Homo sapiens: one gene and its partners. The protein of the gene in region 3 purifies or fractionates together with the protein of the main gene of each other region. This does not show direct contact. Each region holds a gene or a part of one and is shown on either strand. Other genes may lie near its edges. The genes, in order: CELSR2, POF1B, EHBP1 and SERPINA12.

Region 1 (6,337 bases), on a different chromosome or scaffold from region 3:
TGGGAGGGGGACTAGGTGGCCCACTGACCCAGTTTACCCACTCCCCCCCACCCCCGCCAACTCCCTGCTGCTGTGGGGGAGTGGGGAACACAGCCATGGTTGCGATTATCGTGGTGTTGAGGTGTAGAGGCTGAGGGGGCAGGGGGATGATTTTTGTGGGTCTCAGGATGCTCTGGGCCCTGTAGAAAAGTATGAAAAAGACAACATAGGGTTCCCGCGCAGGCAGCACAGACTCTGGGGGAAGGGAGCAGGAGCGGTGGCTTGGGCAGGGAAAGGTGCACAAACATTAAGAGGTGTGCCGTGCATCAGCGACAGAAGGTTTTGGGAAAGGATGCAAAGAGAACTGCAAATCTCATCCCCTGAGCCCTGAAGGAGTGATTGGCCCACACGTGACATACCTGGCTCAGCACCCTTATGCCAGTTGGAAAGGAGAGCCTTTCTTGGTGGGTGGTGCAGGAATATGCAGGCTGAATTGCAGCCCCAGGCTGGGTCCTGACTGTGTCCCTCTCCACAGACGGCGTACACAGCGTGACCGCCCAGTGCGCGCTGCGTGTGACCATCATCACCGATGAGATGCTCACCCACAGCATCACGCTGCGCCTGGAGGACATGTCACCCGAGCGCTTCCTGTCACCACTGCTAGGCCTCTTCATCCAGGCGGTGGCCGCCACGCTGGCCACGCCACCGGACCACGTGGTGGTCTTCAACGTACAGCGGGACACCGACGCCCCCGGGGGCCACATCCTCAACGTGAGCCTGTCGGTGGGCCAGCCGCCAGGGCCCGGGGGCGGGCCGCCCTTCCTGCCCTCTGAGGACCTGCAGGAGCGCCTATACCTCAACCGCAGCCTGCTGACGGCCATCTCGGCACAGCGCGTGCTGCCCTTCGACGACAACATCTGCCTGCGGGAGCCCTGCGAGAACTACATGCGCTGCGTGTCGGTGCTGCGCTTCGACTCCTCCGCGCCCTTCATCGCCTCCTCCTCCGTGCTCTTCCGGCCCATCCACCCCGTCGGAGGGCTGCGCTGCCGCTGCCCGCCCGGCTTCACGGGTGACTACTGCGAGACCGAGGTGGACCTCTGCTACTCGCGGCCCTGTGGCCCCCACGGGCGCTGCCGCAGCCGCGAGGGCGGCTACACCTGCCTCTGTCGTGATGGCTACACGGGTGAGCCAAGGGAGGGGACTCATGGGCCAGCCCTGGAAGGCTGACTGTGTGGTGCAGGCACAAATCAGGACAAATGCTGGCGGCTGCCTCATTCTCTTCCCGAGTGAGGTGCAGCTACACTGAGAGGTCATAAATCCGGCCTGCTCCCTGACAGCACCCCACTGAGGAAGGCAGTGCAAGGAGTGCTTCTCCCTGCTGTGCACAGGACACACAGGCAGTGCCATTGTGGGCAGAGCTGGCTCCAGAGCCAGTCGGCCTGTGTTCGTGTATCAGCTTTGCCGCTAGTAGCTGTGTGACCTTGAACAAGTTACTTAACCTTTCTGGCCCTCGGTTATTTGAAATGGAGATAATGACCGTACTTAGGTCATAAGTTGGTTGTGAGGATTAATGTAATTAATTTGATACTTGGAAACAGCTGGTGGCATGGAAGGTGTTGGCCTTGATTTAAGGGAACGCTGAGATTGGGTGACTTGCTCCTGGTCTCATCACACCCGGTTTAGAGGTGAGGCTGGGCCTAGAACCTGGTCTCTCCCCCACTGAGCGAGTTCCTTTTCTGAGCTGCAGCAAGTACTTTTCTCCCCAGGCATTAAGGGGAAGACACAGAAGAGCTGGGGGAACTGGAGGGGGTTGAGTTCTGAGATGGGGTGCTCCAGAAAACCATTGCACCTGTATGGGCCTGGGCAGAATGGCTCCGCCTCCGCCCAGCTGCTGGTAAAAGAGGATCCTGGCTAGGCGGCTTCCCTGTTGGCCTGTCAGCCAAGGTCTTTACACATCCTGCTCCCTGGGATGCTCACTGTCTCTGCTCTATGCTCCTGACCCCTCCCTTCAGGCTCCTGTGTCTTCTCAGGACACCCCCTGCTCCCCTTCCCTGTGGGCCTTTCCTTCCTAGATGCCCAGGCCCTGCTCCTTGTCCTCCAGGGCCATGCCCACTGGCTCTGCCAGCAGCCATAGGCAGGCCCCACTCCTTCCCCGCTGCATCTTCCTGCCCAGAACTTGCCAGACTTGACTTCTCTCTGCTGCTGCTAGGGGTGGGGGGAAGGGGAGGGACGGGCTTGGGGGAGGGGAGAGAAGTCTTTGTCCAGGAGGATGGTGGGGGGGGTTGGGAGGGGGGGGGTTAGAGCAGGCGAACAACAGTTTCCATGGAAACAAGAGCCAGTCACTAGGCACAGGAGCTGAGAACCTATCTCTAGAATCTGGGAATGGGGAGGGAGAGAAGGGTGGATTTTCCCATCTGATGTTGGAGTTTTCAGCTCCTCTGTTGAATTCTTGTCTGCTCTCAGGGCTCAGTTTCCCACTCTCAGCATGTCCCAGGTGCACAGAGGTCCTTAGTCTGGACCGCAGGGCTCAAGGTGGGAGTCCTCTGCCCCATTCCTGGGGGCTCCCCAGCTTCTCTCTCATACTCTTCCATAACCCAGACAAATCTAAGTGGAAGCCTGGTCCCATCCCCAGGGAGGGAAACTGATCTCAGTGCCTGAGAGGGACAAAAGCACCAGTGGGAAGGAGGGAGGAGGGAGGCTCCCAGCCCTCCCGCTGTCCTGCAGGCCCATCTGCTTGTGCACATTTACCCTCTTGGGGGCCAGGACACCCCCAGGTGTGCTTGGTAGTGTGACATCGAAGGCTCCCGGGATCCGGGCCTTACAACCAAGTGTCCCAGCAGGCCTGTGCTTATGAAACCCAAATGGGGTAGGGAAGGTGCTGGGGACTCCGAGGAACTTGCAGGGGAGCAGTGCGTGGAGCTGTGGCGAGAGCGGCTCAGTGAGCCAAACAGGGTGCCCATGAAGGGCTGGGGACCATAGGTCTCAGAGAAGATGGCACACGAGAGGAAGTGGGGATGCCTGGGAGGTTTGGGGAGTATTACGAGGGTCACGGGAGGCCATGGGAGCTATCACTGGGTTGTGGGGGGTCTCAGTTCCCCTCCTGTCCTCAGGTACTTGGTACTCACCTGCCTTTCCTCTTGTCCAGGTGAGCACTGTGAGGTGAGTGCTCGCTCAGGCCGTTGCACCCCGGGTGTCTGCAAGAATGGGGGCACCTGTGTCAACCTGCTGGTGGGCGGTTTCAAGTGCGATTGCCCATCTGGAGACTTCGAGAAGCCCTACTGCCAGGTGACCACGCGCAGCTTCCCCGCCCACTCCTTCATCACCTTTCGCGGCCTGCGCCAGCGTTTCCACTTCACCCTGGCCCTCTCGTGAGTGGCTGGGCACTGGGGGTGGGGAGTGGGCCTGGTGGGCATCTGAGGTGCCTCCTGTTCTGTGGTTGAAGTAAGAGGTCAGGCAGTGAAAGCGTGGAGCAGGCTGCCGGCAGAGCCAGGTCTGCTCTTGGAGTTGCCTGTGGTTCTGCCAGCAGATCTCCCTCCCCTGCGCTGGTTAGGTGGCGGGGGTGCTGGCATCCAGGTGGGTACCCCATTCCCTGCCCCCATCCCCAACTCCTGTTCAGGTTTGCCACAAAGGAGCGCGACGGGTTGCTGTTGTACAATGGGCGTTTCAATGAGAAGCATGACTTTGTGGCCCTCGAGGTGATCCAGGAGCAGGTCCAGCTCACCTTCTCTGCAGGTGATCACAGTTGCCCCCCATCCTTGCCCATCTTCCAAAGGCCCCAAGTCTTCCAGCCCCTGACCCCAAGCCACATACTCTATCAGCCAAATCTGGGCCCAGCCCCAGCCACTGGCACCCCAAACCCTGCCATTCCTAGCCCTCGTCAGGCATTCCAGCTCACCTGGTCCTTTCCCCAGGGGAGTCAACCACCACGGTGTCCCCATTCGTGCCCGGAGGAGTCAGTGATGGCCAGTGGCATACGGTGCAGCTGAAATACTACAATAAGGTGGGTGTGGAGGGCACAGAGGGTTGGGGGTTCTGTTCTTGCCTCAGGTGCTTACCCAGCCCTGAGTGGCATTGCCTCCAGGCTTGGGTGGGCTGGTCAGGGCATTTCTGGCTGAGAGGAAGGGAGCGGCTGGGAAGGTGCCACCTTGCTGGGCATTCCCACCCCACTGGGCACTGCTCGATGCTCTCTGTTCCACTAGGCAGCCGCAAACTTGGACACTGAGGAAGGTAGTTACATGCATAAACCACGTGAGCACACGTGTGTGTATATGCATGTGTGTACGTGTGTCTGGGCATGTGGGTGCACACAGAGGCACCCAGTGTGTGCTGGCCATGAACCTAGTGGGCTCTGTACTCAGTGTCCCCCTTCTCTGCTCTTTCCTGTCCACAGCCACTGTTGGGTCAGACAGGGCTCCCACAGGGCCCATCAGAGCAGAAGGTGGCTGTGGTGACCGTGGATGGCTGTGACACAGGAGTGGCCTTGCGCTTCGGATCTGTCCTGGGCAACTACTCCTGTGCTGCCCAGGGCACCCAGGGTGGCAGCAAGAAGTGAGCAGGGGAAAGGGCCAGGGATGGGGTGAAGTGAGGGCAGGGCCAGGCAGGGAGGGAAGGTGGAGAGGGTGGGCTTTTGGGGTCTCTCTCCCTTTGCCTCTCTTAGCCCCTGCTCAGCCCTGGGGATGGGGTCAAGACTGGGGAATCAGAGCAAGGCCCTGTGGGGCAGTCTGGGGAGGGGGCTGAGTGTTCGACAAGAACAGTTCCAGGTAGGGGTGACGCCCTTCCTGAGCACTGCTCTGCAGGGCCTCTTGGACACCTGCCTACGCCGTTCGTGTCTCTGGCCTGGCGGCAGAGCGAGCGGAGGACCAGAAGCTCCCAGCCCTCCCTTGTGCCGCCACCATCTTTGCTCCCCCAGGTCTCTGGATCTGACGGGGCCCCTGCTACTAGGCGGGGTGCCTGACCTGCCCGAGAGCTTCCCAGTCCGAATGCGGCAGTTCGTGGGCTGCATGCGGAACCTGCAGGTGGACAGCCGGCACATAGACATGGCTGACTTCATTGCCAACAATGGCACCGTGCCTGGTATGGGGGCCCGGGGTGGAGCCAGGCTGGGATCCCAGTGCTGAGAGGAGGGGCTGTGCCTGGTGTGAGGATGCCAGAATGGAGGGTCTCAGAGGCCTCTCTAACTGCTGCCACAGGCTTTCTCTTTAGAGCCCCAGCTCAGGTCCACTGAGCTGCCTTCTCTCCATTCCAGGCTGCCCTGCCAAGAAGAACGTGTGTGACAGCAACACTTGCCACAATGGGGGCACTTGCGTGAACCAGTGGGACGCGTTCAGCTGCGAGTGCCCCCTGGGCTTTGGGGGCAAGAGCTGCGCCCAGGGTAGGAGGGGCGGCTGTTAGAGGCCACAGCCTGGGTGCCATCAACAGTCTGGGAACTGGCAGGGTTGGGGCAGGCACTGGGCAGGGCTCTGCTGAGCGGGGCTGTGGGTGGAAAAGCGTGTCTGGGCAGAGCCCTGAAAGGGCAACACAGGAGACAAAGGGGCCAGTCAGAGGCAGGCCTGGGCACAGCGTGGGGCGGTCCCAGGGCAGGTACGCACTTTGGAGGGCGGGGCTGATGAGGGGAGTGGGCTCTGCCTCCCGTGCAGCCGCCACCGCTGAGCATCACAGCCCCAGGGCCCTCTGAGGCTCCACCCGTCACAGTCTGCCTTTTCCTGCCTCCCCAGAAATGGCCAATCCACAGCACTTCCTGGGCAGCAGCCTGGTGGCCTGGCATGGCCTCTCGCTGCCCATCTCCCAACCCTGGTACCTCAGCCTCATGTTCCGCACGCGCCAGGCCGACGGTGTCCTGCTGCAGGCCATCACCAGGGGGCGCAGCACCATCACCCTACAGGTGATGCATGGAAGGGCGGCTGGCCCTGGCCTGGCCATAGGGCCCTGGTAGCCTCTAGGCGGCTGGACAGAAGTGGCTGGGCAGGTCCTGGGCAGGGGTGGGGACATATAGAGGCCGCTGGATCCGTTGGGAAGGTCAATGCTGCCACCTGTTGGGCCTGAGGGAAATAAATACGCTTTCCTCTCTATGGCCTCAGCTGGGCAGCGGGATGGGTTTGATGGTCCAGAAAGGGGAACTGTGAGCTGGAGAACAGTGATTAAGGCCGTCTGCTGACCCTGTTTTCTTTCCTCCTGGTGTCAGCTACGAGAGGGCCACGTGATGCTGAGCGTGGAGGGCACAGGGCTTCAGGCCTCCTCTCTCCGTCTGGAGCCAGGCCGGGCCAATGACGGTGACTGGCACCATGCACAGCTGGCACTGGGAGCCAGCGGGGGGCCCGGCCATGCCATTCTGTCCTTCGATTATGGGCAGCAGAGAGCA
Region 2 (6,337 bases), on a different chromosome or scaffold from region 3:
TGGAATATTATACTGTATATTAGTCTTTATGTAAAGTTTTAAAATTCAAATTAGACAACATAAAGAGTTATACTTTCATGTTAGCAAGTTTCCAAATATTTAGAAACAAAGCCTGCACTACGTATGTAATATTCTCTATGATTTAATTCTCATTACCTTCAGTCTTTCTTGTATGTCTTACACCAGGCTTTTGAGCTCTTTGACCACAGCTATCAACAGGAAAATGAAGCCAACAGGTCTTGACTGAAGAGGTTCAGATTTTGCAGTCTAAAGACCAATTGCAGAGAAAATTGTATGAAGAAAATGCCCAAAAAGGTCTATGTGGAATGTCTCAGGAAGAGCTGTAAATAAATATGCAATCATGAGGTGAACTTTGGCAGAATAGAACTATGAAGCAGTCTAGTTGGAGTCCCTAGGAATATTAATTTTAAAATCTCCACAACTTTAATTACACCTAAGAATATGTTCTCTAGAAAAGTTGCTTAAATTCCCTATACACATCCCATATCACTCCTCTGCTGCAAAAACCTTCAATGACACTAAGTATCTATAAATTGCTTAGTCTGACTTTCAAGGCCCTCCATGTTAGGGCTCCTGTGGAACTTCCTGGAACTCTCCTTCTGGTGTCCTATGTTTTAGCTAAGTGTAAATGATTGTTCTCTAAATAAAGTCCCCAATTTTCCACAGCTATGTCTTTCACTCCATTGCTCTTACATCTGAACTGCTCCTGCTCCTCACCCTCACCAATCTAGACACCCTGAAATTATACAAATTTTTCAAGCCTTTCCTCAAGTGTAACCTTCTGATCCTCTGATTGTCCCAGGTTGAAGTTATCTCTTAGCCCTCAAAACTTACCTAGTGAGCTTCTTATAGGTCTTATGATAGTCTACTTAATTCCTATTTGTACTCATAGTGTTTATGCCCTACATGATTATAACCATGAGAGGGTAGAGATTATATTCTAACATCATTTGTATCTCTTTCAATGCCACTACACAATAAGTAGTAAAGAAACTGCAAGTTAGTAACTTAGTCACATATATAATCAATCCAGTGAAAATAATATTTCATATTAATACATGGGTTTTTTGTTTTTCACAACTCTTCCATGTATATGATTATCTAGTAAACAACTTGATAGAACCTCAACAATTAGATAAAACATGCATTATTATGTTTATTGTACAAATTGTACGATGTACAAATAAAGACAATATTCATTGTGTATTATTTATCTGTTAAACAAATAAGGAAATTGAGACTCGAATAGCTCAAAATAACTTGCCTATTTAGTACAGCTGGTTAGTGAATGCCCTGAGTTTAAAAACCAGCTCCTGATATTTTCATTACATCAGCTATCTCCCTTAATTAACTTTCGATATTCATGATTTCAGTTTAAATTAGTTCACATTTTTTATTTCAACAAAACATTTGATGATTACCCTTACTGTATATTTTCCCATTCTAATGTTCCATTATCAGAATGGAAAATATCAAAAATACATTAGAGGACAAAAATAGTTTTCCCTCTAGTTTTCAAGGTCTTGCTCAGAAATAATCCTAGAATTCAGGGTATATATTAAGTTTTTAAGGTTTTCTTTCTTTCAAAGGAGAATAACACCTTTTGAGCTTCTGCCTTCCCTTCTTTCTTTACTGCACTGAGCTACTCAAAAGCATTTTCACTAAAGTAAATAACTGAGACATTTAGGCCATTTGCACATCATCTGATTTAACTCTGAAAACAGCTTATATATAAAACTGCCCTTTCTGCACATGTACCCCAGAACTTAAAGTATATATATATATAGTATATATAATATAATATATATAAATATGAATAAAATATATTTATATATATATATACTTTAAGTTCTGGGGTACATGTGCAGAAAGGGCAGTTTTGTTACATAGGTATAAACGGGCAATGGTGGTTTGCTGCACCCATCAACCCGTCACCTACATTAGGTATTTCTCCTAATGTTATCCGTCCCCTAGGTCCCCATCTTCTGACAGGCCCCTGTGTGTGATGTTCCCCTGAAAACAGCTTTTTTAACAAATAGGTGGAAATAAGATATACTTTTATGAATAATGAATTCTCTAGGGAAACCAGAGTTTCCTAGCTCAGATTTAGTGTGTACAAAGGTATGGACAATTATCTCAAGTGATGTAATGAAATTATCCCCAAGCCCACATAATTATAAACCAAATTCTTTTTCATTTCTTTTTTTTTTTTTTTTGAGACAGAGTCTCGCTCTGTCGCCCAGCCTGGAGCACAGTGGCACGATCTCGGCTCACGGCAAGCTCTGCCTCCCAGGTTCACGCCATTCTCCTGCCTCAGCCTCCTGAGTAGCTGGGAATATAGGCGCCCGCCACCACACCCGGCTATTTTTTTGTATTTTTAGTAGAGACGGGTTTTCACCATGTTAGCCAGGATGGTCTCGATTTCCTGACCTCGTGATCCGCCCACCTCAGCCTCCCAAAGTGCTGGGATTACAGGCGTGAGCCACCACGCCCGGCCCCAAATTCTTTTTCACCAGACTCTACTTAAAGTTGCCAATAAAGTATAATGTTTGTGTATATAGCAAGTCTGACCCACAGGAATAAACGACTCAACAAAATGCTGAATATTTTATCAGAAAAAGTAAGGTCTTCCTGCAAAATTGAAGAGATTAGATGATATGAGCATTAAACAAAAATTCAATGGTTTATTGAGTTTTAGAGGCTTGTGAGTACACTCTGTAAATGTACCACGCGTTTTACAAATTCTATTGAGTTTATGGAAACTTAAATTATCTAATCAAGGCTGTTCTCTCACACAGCTACTTGTGGGTGGGTGTCTTATTTTCAGGCCTCCAAAGTTGCTTTTGACACTGAATAATTTTAAAAGTCCCAGTATTTGACCTTCTGTTATAAGGACTAGTCAAACTTAACCATATAATTAGGTTACACAACTTGAAAAACAGAAAATATAATGAAGCAAGCAATAAACGTGGCAAAATATGGTGATTAAGAGCATGAGTTCTGGAGTCATGCTGAGTTGGAATTCCAGCACCTTAGCATTAGCTGTGTAATCTCCATCTGGTTACCTATCCTACCTCTGTCTAACTTCACTTGTTTATGTAATGGGGTTATAATAGTATCTTCTTTATGGGGTTATTTTGAGTGTTAAAGAGAATGATCTATGTAACATGTTTGGCACAGAAAGCTATTAATAGGTGTTAGTCATCATTATAATCATCATCAAAAGGAAAACAATACTGACAAGTTTAAAAAATTTGAAATTGTTTTGTTTGTATGGAAAAATAAGTTGGGAATGGTCTCTTATATTCACAGAACGTCAGAAACAAACTTAAAGATCCTCTAATCCACACTCGCCCACACCCATATCCCATTTCTCATTTCTCACATGAGGAAACAAATCTCAGAGAGAGAACATGAGTTGACCAGTATTACAAAAGTGGCTAGTAGTATAAATGGGAATAAAATCCAGGTCTGCTGACTCCAAGTCTAGCACTTTTTCCACTATGTCATGATAACCACCACCACCCCATTATCGCCTTCAATTATTTGGTCATCAGGAATGTGGGGCTGTGGCACAAAAGGCATAAAAACAAAAACATTGACTGTTCATTGAATTTAATAGTTTCAACATGAAGGATTTAGGTAAGCTATACACAGATGAGTAACAAAATTAAACACTGACTGATACAGGTTATTAAGAGGGAGATTTGGATTGTTATTCCTGGAGTGCTTTTAAAACTAAGATCTCCTTTTCATTCATTCTTTCAAAAATATTTTGGATCACTTTCTATGGAATGGTCAATGGCTATTTATGGGATGACTTGCTGCAATCTTGCCTAGATCTTGATGCCATTGAAAGTACCTTTCAACATCAAGGTTTTGTTCATTCTGGACATTTACTCACACCATCTTACTTAATTTTGTAGACTTCCAGGGAAAAGGGGTTTTCTTTAGCAAGTATTTCTGGAATTAATAAACCTATTTTCAGAGAGGTTTTCCCCCTTATGATCAGCCTAAATCCATACTGATGCAATTTAAATTCATGCTGTTCAACACCATATGTCTAAATATCTTTGACTCATATTAAGCTACATCTTAATGTTGTAATTTTTGAACCTATTATATTTGTTCTCTAATGTTTCCATGAGGGTTGCGTGGGAAAGCCACATTTGTCTAGATGATCAATTTTAATAATGAAGGCTGAAGTAGGGCTAAAAATAATTGAGTACATTATAATCTATGGACTTAATGTTCCAGCTTTCCACATATAAGAAGATTAAAGAATTCCTTCATTTTAGGGCAAGACTAGTCTTTGCTCAAATACAACTGTTTGCCATTTAAACATCTATTATCTTAACATCTGAATAAAGTAATACTGCTTATACTAGCATAAATAAATGTCTTTATCTGTGATGTGTGATGTGTGTGTATTCCTATTTGTTTAAATTTCTGCAGATTTATAAAACTTCTTAGTACGCTTTTGTATCTTAAAAGCTAGTCCAGTTGGCTAGTAAGATTTGCTATGTTTCATTTGCTAATGCCATCATATTTGAATTGGTTACAAGAAGGACAGAGCTATCATTTCTACAACAGCTACCAGATACTAACCATGTGTATAGTTGTCTTCTCAGAATGATACTAGTATAATATTATTAGCCCCAGCCTAAACAGACCAAACATCCTCTAGACATGAATACCTTCACACACTGCTGGTGGATGTATAATTATCATAGTCAAATTTGGGAAATTAGTTGGGCAGTATCTGTTCAAATGAATAACACACATACTCCATGCCCCAGCAATCCCAATTCTGTGTGGGATTCTAAAGAAACATGTTGCACAAGGATGCTCATTGCAGCACAGTGGAAACCTGGAAACAATATAAATGTTAATCAGCAGGAAAACATAAAAACAAGCTATAAAGCAAGCATTTTGGAATACTATTAATTGAAAATAATGAGTTAAAACATGTATCTAGTACATAATACAAGAGATACTGTTTGGTTTAAGTTGTAGAACAATGAAAGCAATAATATTACTATTTATACATAGGTATATATGTAAAGACATCTTAACTGACAACAATAGTCACTTCTGGGTAAGTGAATGGAGGAAAGATGGTCAAGAGAAGGTCTTTAACCTTATCTATATAAATGTTTATATTAAGAATGTGTTCATGTGTTATTCCATAACTAAAGAGCACCCCTCTTTTTTCTTGTCTTCTTGAATCTGCTCCTCTTGGGTCTGTGGGCCAAACCTGCCTGCACATGGTTGTATTTATAACCATTTTCCTAAACTGGATAATGTGTACCTGTTTTGTCTATAATCTGTAATTCTCTGCATTTGTCTGAGCAAGTCTTCTCAATTATTAGCAGAAAATCTGAGAATATATGCAAAAGATTCCTAGAAATACTGAGCCTGCAGTATTGCTGTTGATATAAAGGGTGGTGGAGGATGAAAATGTTACAAGTTCAACAACAGCAACAACAAGAAAGAATTCAGAACATTTGGCAGTTTGAGTAAATGCATAGTCCTGTTTTAAGAATACATGTAACACCTACATTATAGCTATAGTTCTGTATGAGTCTGTCAGTGTTTCCCTTGTAAATTAATGATTCTGATTTTTAATAGTTCCCTTGTTCTACAGAAAAAATATTTATACCTTTGTAGGAAGATATAATGGAGTCGTGCCAATTGATTGTAAATTATGGTAAGGTATGGGGAGATTGAGTAACGCCATCATTTCTTTGCACACTAATGAAGTGATTGCAGTTTTGTTGGTTTTGAGGAAATATGTAAACAATGCCAGCATGATGGACAGATTGATCATTTTATTGGACCATTTTAAAAAATTATATTCTTTCACTTTTACAGATTATTTTAACAACAGAGCCTACTCTGAAATTAGACTAGAAGCAGAATAGACAAAGCATAATTAAGAGTTAGCTTGAAGTGATTTAAAATTAATTACTCTTAGTTGCATTTTCAAAGGTAGTTTGAAATTTACTCTTAAATTTACTCTTCAAACTACCTTCTTCAAAGGTACTTTAAAATTTACTCTTAAAATTACTCTTAGTTGAGTTTTCAAAGGTAGTTTCTTATATTGGTTTGAGAATTATTTTTTCTAAGTTTTATTTTATTTTTAAAATTTTGGGCACATAGTAAATGTGTATATTTATGGGGTGCATAAGATGTTCTGATACAGGCATGCAACGTGAAATAAGCACATCATGAAGAATGGGATGTCTATCTCTTGGTTTGATAATTATTAAATTTTACATCATTTTATGAGAAATTATTTAATGAGTACAATGTA
Region 3 (6,337 bases):
GCTGAACACAACAGGATTTCTAAAACGTTCTGTTGTTTTTTGTAATCGTTCAGTCCGGAGATCTTCTGTGCCACTCTAAACGTAAAACAACACATGGTAAGAGAGTCCTGATCTCATAAACATAAAATTACACATTAGTAAGGCAATTTTTACTGATTTAAGATAACACTGATTTAGAAACTTTTTGCAAGAAAAGGATTTTAAAGCACTTTAAAGAGCTCAACTGCAAGTTCTGTTGCCTGTAATCACAAACTTTGGGACACATGGTTTAACTCTTGATAACTTTGATACGAATGTGTCTTCCACCAGTGATACATATCATTTAAAAGCCATGTTGCCTCCTATTTCCCCCACTATTCTGTGTCATCAGTTTGTACAGCCCCACAGACTTGTATGACAACAAGAACTAGTTTCTAATTTTATGCCCATTGAGATAAACCACTAATGCTGGATGAAGGCTAAAAGGTAGGATTATAATACTACCCTACTGAACTGCATTTCATCAGCTATAACTTTCCAAAGCCAGATTTGTAAGTAAGCCCTTTACAGCTAAGGAAACTACAATTATCTTTTCCGGAGCTTCCTATGTTAATACTGGTAACAAATTCAAATGGTTCTATCAACAAGAAATATCCCAGAAGACTGAACCACTGCAGTGTGTGGAAGCTGCAGATACCGAGGTGCTGTGTACCAAACAAATATTTCATTTTATACCTAATCTTTTATTATTTTTATTAAGTGTTTTGAAAGTAAATAGGGAAAGGCTAAGATGCATGACTAATAGCTAAGCCTGCTGAATGCTGAAACTGGTTATCAAAAGCTACCAAGACTTTGCCCTTCCTCTGCATTGAGACAATCAGTAATGAGGGAGCCCTCCAATGGCCTATTCTCTAGCCTCAAGGAGGCCTGGGATACAGAATCCTCAGGGGAAGGTAACAGTTTATTCTTTTCCACAAACACAGAATGCCTCATTTATAAATGTGTAAACTGCATTTTATTAAAAAAAATTAAAACCCAAGTCAACGCTGAAAGCTTCAAGAGAACAGATGGACTCTATATGTTCTTTATAAACACCATTTTCAAAATCTTAACTAAAAGGAATCATACAAAGGCAAGCTGTTTAAAGCACACCTTTTGTTGGAATAACTTTAAAGACTACTATATAAGAGTGTTTTGGAAAGCAAAACCAATTTTATCTATACAGATAAACCATAATAATGAAAATAACACTATTTTATTTTTTTAAAGTTATCTAATGAATTTATCATTAATATCATGCTTATAATATCCTAGCCATATAGTTATGATAGCAACAGTTTTGGCTTTTATTCTATTTTTTTAAAGAAAAATAGAGTTCTACTGTTATATAACTATCCAATAGTCTAATACTCAAGTCTTTACCAAAATAAACAAACACAGCTAAATTTTTTTAGGCCTGGCAACATGCTAAAATATCAGTGCGATTAGCCAGCAAATCCCATCTTAAGAAACCTTTTTATGACTAGGGACTTCTGCCACTTTACAAATGTATTCCTCTAAACCCACTAATTCAGTTAGCCTTTTCAATCTATTGTATTATTCTTAGGCCAGCTTCATTCTGCATTAAATCCACTGCAGAAAGCTAAATTGAACGCAAAAAATCAGACCCGATCCAGGCTTCCTTTTGTTCAAAGATAGAGACCAAAAGTCCTCTGGTGCTGCCACACACTTTCATCACCAATTTATAGAAACTGACAATATAGGGGAAAAGCAATGAAAGTCATTGTTTTGGGACTTCAAAGCATCTCTGTGTCAGGGGAAGGAAATCCTTTCAGTCAGCAGGGCAGTCCCCATAGTCCGCAGGTGGGTGAAAAGTTATACAGGACTGGAAGTGCCCTAAAGCTACAGAAATACTAATCACTGTGAGGAAAGCAGGGAAACATGTGGGTGGGAATAATATAAACAGTCTAATAATAGTCTTATAATGTGGCATTTTTGACTAAAATGTTACACAAGGTAAGATGCATAATGGCACAAAACACATGCAAGTTATCTTAAACATTTATATTCAATCACATTACCATTTTCAGGTGTGATGATTCTTACAAATAACATACATTTAGTTCATCTATATAGGCAGAAGCTTGAGGATTATTGAAAAATGCGCTAGAATTCTCTTAACAGTATTTGTCTTAGCAAAATATACATACATATAGAACTCAAGAATAGTTTCCATATTGCCTCTATTTTTACTTGAAATAGCAGTTTAAAGTAGTAGTTTCCCTGAAAAATAGTATATGAATACTGATTACCATATTGATATTTACTTATTGGCTATTTAATACAATTTTTTTAATTAATTAATTTTTTTTTTTTTTTTTTAGACAAGGTCTCACCCTGTCTCCGCTGCTGGAGTGCAGTGACATGATCACCACTCACTGCAGCCTTGAACTCCTGGGCTCAGGCAATCCTCCCGCCTCAGCCTCCTGAGTAGCTGGGACTACAGTCATGCACCACCATGCCTGGCTAATTGTTTTACTTTTAGTAGCAAAGTCTCAATATGTTGCCCAGGCTGGTCTTGAACTACTGATTCTCCTGCCTTGGCCTCCCAAAGTGCTGGACTTGCAGGCATGAGCCACCACACCTCACCAGTAAAAATTTCTTATACCCTAATCTTAATATTGGTGAAAAATTAGGTAAAAAATTGTTTTTGGAATTACAAACTCCTGGCAGAAACTAGAAGACACAGATACTAAGCCAAATGTTTTAAACAAGTAAGACTTACTTTCATGTCCTGCTCTGAGCTCTCAGTTACAGCTTTCTGGGCAGCACTGGAGGGTGAATTTGCCACCTGTGGCTGAACTTCTAGGAGCTTCTTCAGCTTCAAGTCCACCAACTTACTGTTTTGTTCTGTTAAATATGCAAATACCATGAATAACTGAGTGAGATGCATTTAGATATGTAGGCTGTCAATTTTATGTGAGCTCAGAAAAGTATTACTATATTTTAAAAGAAAGAAGAAAAGGATATTAGTAGATTAGACACATGAAAAATCCTTTACATATATATATTCCCCCACCAAAATCATTCCCCTTAAAGAATACAGTCAACATATCTAAAGAGAACTTAGTTATACTATAGTTAAATAGTAGCTAATGCTTACCTAAAAACCTATGCCTGTATGTGATGTATACATTTATATAAGCACTGTATGTTATACATAATAAAACAAGCTGTTATAACAAACTAGATATTTAAAAGAAGAGATACATTTCATTTTGAATATTATTTTGTAGTTTTCTTTTAGTATATCAGATTTATAAATATAATGCCATATTAAAACAAATTCTTAACATTATCTCAGATCATCATCATGTACATACTATTAGAATCCAGTGTTTATATATGTACCTATATAACCAGCATTGAAACAGGGTATATGTTTACAAATACCCTCTACTTAGATAGCAGAAATACAATACAGATTATTACATTTTTGGAATGTATTAATGTACATTAATCTTTCATAATACAATAGTTCAAAATGAGTAGAAACACAACTAATTCTTAAATTAATAAAAGGCAACTCCTCAATAAAATGGTCGCAATAGATATGTCCACCATTTGCTGGATGATATTTTTCATAAAGATTAATAACTTTTCTAATTATAAGACTCTTAATAAATGCTATTGTCATTACTTTCATGCAAATTGGTCAGTTTATATTGCAAGGCTTCTCTTTTAAACAATATCTGATGAACTATGGTCAAATCAAGATAAAGATTAAACAATTTATTATTAAAACCTTATGACTTATATACATATGAAAAAAATTTGGGGGGAAAATAAAGCAAGGATAAAAATCATAATATATTCTAAGGGCTTCCAGATTCTAGTTTGCATTCCTATTTCTTATTGCCACAAAATAAACCATAAATCTGAACTGGGAGGCCTGTCTACTTCCATGCCAACACTTAACTGGCATGCTTGAGAGCCGTAAACAATTTATTAGTTAACTCCAAACAGGAAGGCTGAGATGTGTGTTCGTTTTGGAAAACATTAAGTAGGAGGAGAGTTTTTAAAAATGACAAGAGTCAAGCCTGTTAGGATTAAAATTAACCCATCTTTAAAGTATCCCCCAAAGTTGCTACAGCTGAAACTAGAAAATTCTCCCCTTATTTTACCTAAGAAATGGCTATTTTTTCCTGTGTTACTAACCTACTGTAGAATCAGGACATATGCATCACATATTGTTACTGATTTTATGCTTTTATACTTCCATAAATTGAGTATTAAAAAATTAAATCCAGTACTTATGGATGTCCTCCTCAGCATTAAAAAGATGTGATTGGTTTCCGATAAAGCCTTTGGTGGTGGTTATGGTGGGAAGGTGAGTAAGCAACAAAAATGTTTTTTTAAAAAAAAATCAAACCTAACCAAGTTCTGTAGTATTTTAAACAGAAAGAAGTAAAATGTAGTTCTAATTTTGGGTTAAACATTTAAAAGTTTTCCTTAAATATCAGCATTCTTTTGGACTTGCACAATTATAAGTATACTGACTTCTATTTAGCAATAGTATAATTTAACACCCGGCCATGAAGGAGCTACTGACAAAAGGGCATGAGTTTTCTTGAGTGTTCGTTATAGTCAGGAAAACCCTGGTCACCTGTTTATTGAAGTAATAATAGTATTTCCAACAGGGAAAGAAATGGAGCAGATTAGCATTGCAGGTGCATGCCATGGATAGGAAAAAGTATGCTTGCTCTCACTCCCTTTAGCTTTTTACAGGAAAAGATAAATATTAGAGACTTTGCCTCCCTCCTTTGAGTCTAAAGAAATCACCAAAGACTTTTTATTGCCATAAGAATTCAACTCAACAAGCATTTATGGAACCCCTCAGATATACAAAACTTTGGATTGCTACTTGCTGCTGGCTTATAAAGGCAATGCATTTGGAACATTCACCTATTAAAAACCACCAGCAAATATCTTTGTATTTTAAATAAGAACTTACAAAGGTCCATTGCCAAAGCAATTTATTGATATAAGACATAAGGTTAATTTAACAGCAGTCTATATAGTTTTCAAAGTGTCTTATTGTAATCAGTTAAGTATATGTAAAATCATTTACTAGAGTAATATTTAAGTAAGGTAAGCAGAAAATCTGCAAAATAATATTATAACTAAGACTATAATTCTAAACTAAATCAGAAAATCTGATCCCATGGTTTGGATTTACATGTGGAATATATACCTTCTGACATCACACCAAAATATTTAAGCTGAGAAGGGAACCAGCTATTGAAAACCTACAGATTATCTCACATAACATAAAATACAATAGTGAATCTTAGTAACAAGAGAACACAAACTACAATTTGCTATTCCAATGTTATTGCTAATTTTAACATCCAACCTAAAACAAAATAACATAAAATTGATGGAAGGTGGACTAAGCTAAATGGTTTATGAGGCCATAAGATGTAATAAAACTACAAAATTATTATTATTATTGATGAGATAATAAAAATATAACCATAAAGTTTGCCATGCAGCAGGACACAAAACATTTATAATTTGAAATTACCGGGAGTATCAAGGTCATTTTCTAAGTTAGTAAGTTCATCTCCACCTCCTACAACAAAGCCTTCAGGGATCTCCTCGTTAGTATCTATCTCAATATTATCATTTTCATCTGTAGGAACATGTAGCAATAATGTTAGTATATTATTTATATTTTATATCATTCATCCAAAACACTAAAGAAGAAAAACCAGTATTTTAGTATAGTTATTCAAATTCAGGTCTGACACAGATAAGCAAGTTAAGAAATCAGTTTTAAGTCACTCTTTCACTATTGGATTAACATTTATATTTTACATTCCTATGTCAAACATGAATTATCACATCAAAGCAGATGCAAAGGTTTTGACAATTTGCCACACGCTGTCTCTGAATCACTGAGCTCATTGAGTCCCTGTATTTTAAAGTGTAATCTATAAGTAACTCTAACAATGGCACACAAAAATAAAGTTAGTTTGGTGACAAAGTCATCAAATATTTCTAAATTTTACACTTTTATCAGATTATTCGATTTAAATGCATAAATAAGCACACATTCCTCATATATATATTTGTCATTTTCATGAAGGCTTAAATACTTTTATGCTATTAATGAAATATTATCATAAAAACATTATGGATAGATTAAGAGTGAGACTAGCATATACAATGCCTTTATACAATGGAAAATTCAAAAACAACTAAGACAATAAATCTTGGTAGAGCAAAATCTGGGAAAAATTGTCAACCAAAATTAAATATACGGGAATGAGAAAGTCTTACATAATTTTTTATA
Region 4 (2,846 bases), on a different chromosome or scaffold from region 3:
GCGAGGTAAGCCTGCCTAGCCTGGACTCCACTCCCTGCAGCACAGGGGCCTTCCCCCAGCCGGGGCCAGAGCCAGGGTCACAGTGGCTGTCAGAGCCGAGACTCCACCCACCAGTCGGGGCGGGCATGAATGCAGCTGTGCCCCTTACCAACCCCGTGATCCTGGGCAAACCACATAACCTCCCCCAGCCTCATGCTTCCAGTCTTTAAAACTGCTGCTATTTTGGAAATCAATTCAATGTAGCAAACGTTGATCAAGGCCTGGAACAGTTATCAGGCCTAGAACTGGTCTAGGTCTAACCCAGACCCTCTCTCAAAGGCCACATCCGTCTTTCTTTCTTTCTTTTCTTTCTTTCTTTCTCTTTCTTTCTCTCTTTCTCTCTCTCTTTCTTTCCTCTTTCTCTCTCTCTTTCTCTCTTTCTTTCTTTTTCTTTCTCTGTCTCTCTCTCTCTTTTTTTCTTTCTTTCTTTCTTTCTCTCTCTCTCTCTCTCTTCCTTCCTTCCTTCCTTTCTTTCTTTTATTTTGTTTTTTGAAGGAGTCTTGCACTGTCACCCAGGCTGGAGTACAGTGGTGCGATCTCAGCTCACTGCAACCTCCACCTCCCAGGTTCAAGCAATTCTCCTGCCTCAGCCTCCCGAGTAGCTGGGATTACAGGCGCCCGCCACCATGCCCGGCTAATTTTTTTGTATTTTTAGTAGAGACAGGGTTTCACCATGTTGGCCAGGCTGGTCTCAAACTCCTGACCTCAGGTCATCCACCCACCTTGGCCTCCCAAAGTGCTGGGATTACAGGCGTGAGCCACCGCGCCCAAGGCCACATGTTTCATATGAGTTGGCATAAGCATATGCTGCATAGGAAGAGATGACCAAGCAAAGGGGCCTGTGGCCCCTGGCAAAGGTGAGCACCTGACTGTCTGGGGCAAGAAGAGAGCACCATATAGGTAGAGTCACCGGATTTAGCAGATTTCATACAGGATACCCAATTAAATTTGAATTTTAGATAAATGATGAATAATATTTTTAGTGCCAGTATGTTCAGAATATTTCACGGGACACACTTACACTAAAACATATTCATTGTTTATCTTGAATTCAAATTTCAGTGGATGTCCTGTATTTCACCTGGCAACCCTACTTTGGGGTTAAAAAGGCATTGAAGGAGGGGAAAGATTTCAACAAGCAGAGATGGGTGCGGGGATGGGTGCAGCAGTGTGGCCAAGGCTGGGGGTTTTTGGATATCATGGAGTAGTGGGTGGTGGGGATTGGGTGCTTAGTGGAGATAAAGTGGGAGGTTCAAGCCAGTCTGGGAAGGATCCAGCTTGCCAAGCTGAGCCCGCTGCTCTGAATCAGATGGCACAGATTCCACTGTATTTTTCACGTTGACATAAGAAACATAGTTACTAGAATTTTCTCACTTTTGAGCTTTCCTGCCACAGACTTCCCACAAACATTTAACACCAGCTCTGAAGGTCTTGTTGAGTTTAATGGCTCATTTCTTTCTGTAGTTACGTTTGCTGATAGCTGTGATTGTAACACAGGATACTGTCCTGTTTTCTGCAAGTAAAATTGTGAGAATTTTGTAGGCTAGCAAGAAATGTGCCAGGATTTCACACATGCCCGTTAGTTTCCCAGTACTGATCACCTGTTTACAGACGTTGATGCCTTTGGAGTGGATTTGGGATGCAAGTCATCTCAAAGAGCTAATCCAGAATCCTTCTCCCTCTTAACCATCCACCAGGTGGATGAAAGGAGGTGCTGGAGGCTTCAGGGTGGGGGTACCACCACCTCACTTTCACCCAGCTACAGCCCAGTAGACCTTTCTGCCACGGCTATGGTTGATGCTTCCCTGTAACCCATGAGAAAGAGAAGCAAACCCCACTCCATCTCTCCCCCCACCGACTCCCGTAACTGATGCTCCCCCTGCACCATCTTTTCCTTCACACGGCATCTGCTTGTCGAATATTCTCCAGCATTAATGGCGAAAGAGCCAGGAACCCTGGAGTAAACCAAGTTACTGCTGTGCTGGATGGCTTGGGCCAAGTGGTCTTCCTCTCTGATCCTCTCTGGGCCTCCGGCCCACTGTGGTCGCCAAGGAGCTTGGCAGACCTTGACTTTGCCCTTGGCTTCCGTAGGCTGTGCACAAGGCTGAGCTGAAGATGGATGAGAGGGGTACGGAAGGGGCCGCTGGCACCGGAGCACAGACTCTGCCCATGGAGACACCACTCGTCGTCAAGATAGACAAACCCTATCTGCTGCTGATTTACAGCGAGAAAATACCTTCCGTGCTCTTCCTGGGAAAGATTGTTAACCCTATTGGAAAATAAAGGAGAATTCCTGCTTGCCACAGACCCCGAACATGGCTTGGGGTTGAACATGTTCCATCTTCCTGAGATGGAAGTCACAGGCACATTTCAGTTTAGTCTCTCCCTGTCACCACCTCCCTAGACAGCCCGAATGAGCAAAACTGCAAGTTCTAGAAGTCCTGTGCCCCATTTCCTCCCTGCCCATTCAAATGCTGGGATGCAATGCCCCACCCCCGCCCACTTGGTGGCATTCTCCTCTCCCCTCCAGCGGGCAGAGGGACTCTGTGATTTAGTAAACAAATGTTTCTCCCCCACAGCCCTGCCCCAGGTTGACTGGCTGTTGGTGGATAATTTGGGGAAGGTATGGGCCACAGCAAGTACCTGGGGTCTCGAGTGAGAGACTGGGGTTCAAATCCTGGAATGAGGTATCTTTGGGAAAGCCACAAACCCTCTCTGAGTCTGTCTTCTTATTTCTGAAGTGAAGGTCCCGCCCCTCCCTTTGGGGCTCCAAGGAAGCTAGTTCAGTGCTTTAACAAAGTCGGTCC

The links.
Region 1: the proteins of EHBP1 (region 3) and CELSR2 purify together in Homo sapiens (affinity purification with mass spectrometry; one large-scale study listed by BioGRID and IntAct). This does not show direct contact.
Region 2: the proteins of EHBP1 (region 3) and POF1B purify together in Homo sapiens (affinity purification with mass spectrometry; one large-scale study listed by BioGRID and IntAct). This does not show direct contact.
Region 4: the proteins of EHBP1 (region 3) and SERPINA12 purify together in Homo sapiens (affinity purification with mass spectrometry; one large-scale study listed by BioGRID and IntAct). This does not show direct contact.

Annotation. Positions count from the first base shown.
Region 1 is NC_000001.11:109,257,918-109,264,254, forward strand, and holds part of CELSR2 (cadherin EGF LAG seven-pass G-type receptor 2 precursor), read left to right. Parts: intron 1-514; coding exon 515-1,162; intron 1,163-3,124; coding exon 3,125-3,347; intron 3,348-3,595; coding exon 3,596-3,711; intron 3,712-3,890; coding exon 3,891-3,979; intron 3,980-4,369; coding exon 4,370-4,527; intron 4,528-4,888; coding exon 4,889-5,052; intron 5,053-5,224; coding exon 5,225-5,350; intron 5,351-5,693; coding exon 5,694-5,860; intron 5,861-6,160; coding exon 6,161-6,337. UniProt on the Homo sapiens protein: Receptor that may have an important role in cell/cell signaling during nervous system formation.
Region 2 is NC_000023.11:85,368,244-85,374,580, reverse strand, and holds part of POF1B (protein POF1B), read left to right. Parts: intron 1-6,337. UniProt on the Homo sapiens protein: Plays a key role in the organization of epithelial monolayers by regulating the actin cytoskeleton. May be involved in ovary development.
Region 3 is NC_000002.12:62,987,268-62,993,604, reverse strand, and holds part of EHBP1 (EH domain-binding protein 1), read right to left. Parts: intron 5,675-6,337; coding exon of another isoform or gene 5,567-5,674; intron 2,890-5,566; coding exon 2,765-2,889; intron 76-2,764; coding exon 1-75. UniProt on the Homo sapiens protein: May play a role in actin reorganization. Links clathrin-mediated endocytosis to the actin cytoskeleton. May act as Rab effector protein and play a role in vesicle trafficking.
Region 4 is NC_000014.9:94,486,779-94,489,624, reverse strand, and holds the end of SERPINA12 (serpin A12 precursor), read left to right. Parts: coding exon 1-5; intron 6-2,130; coding exon 2,131-2,322; 3' UTR 2,323-2,346; downstream 2,347-2,846. UniProt on the Homo sapiens protein: Adipokine that modulates insulin action by specifically inhibiting its target protease KLK7 in white adipose tissues.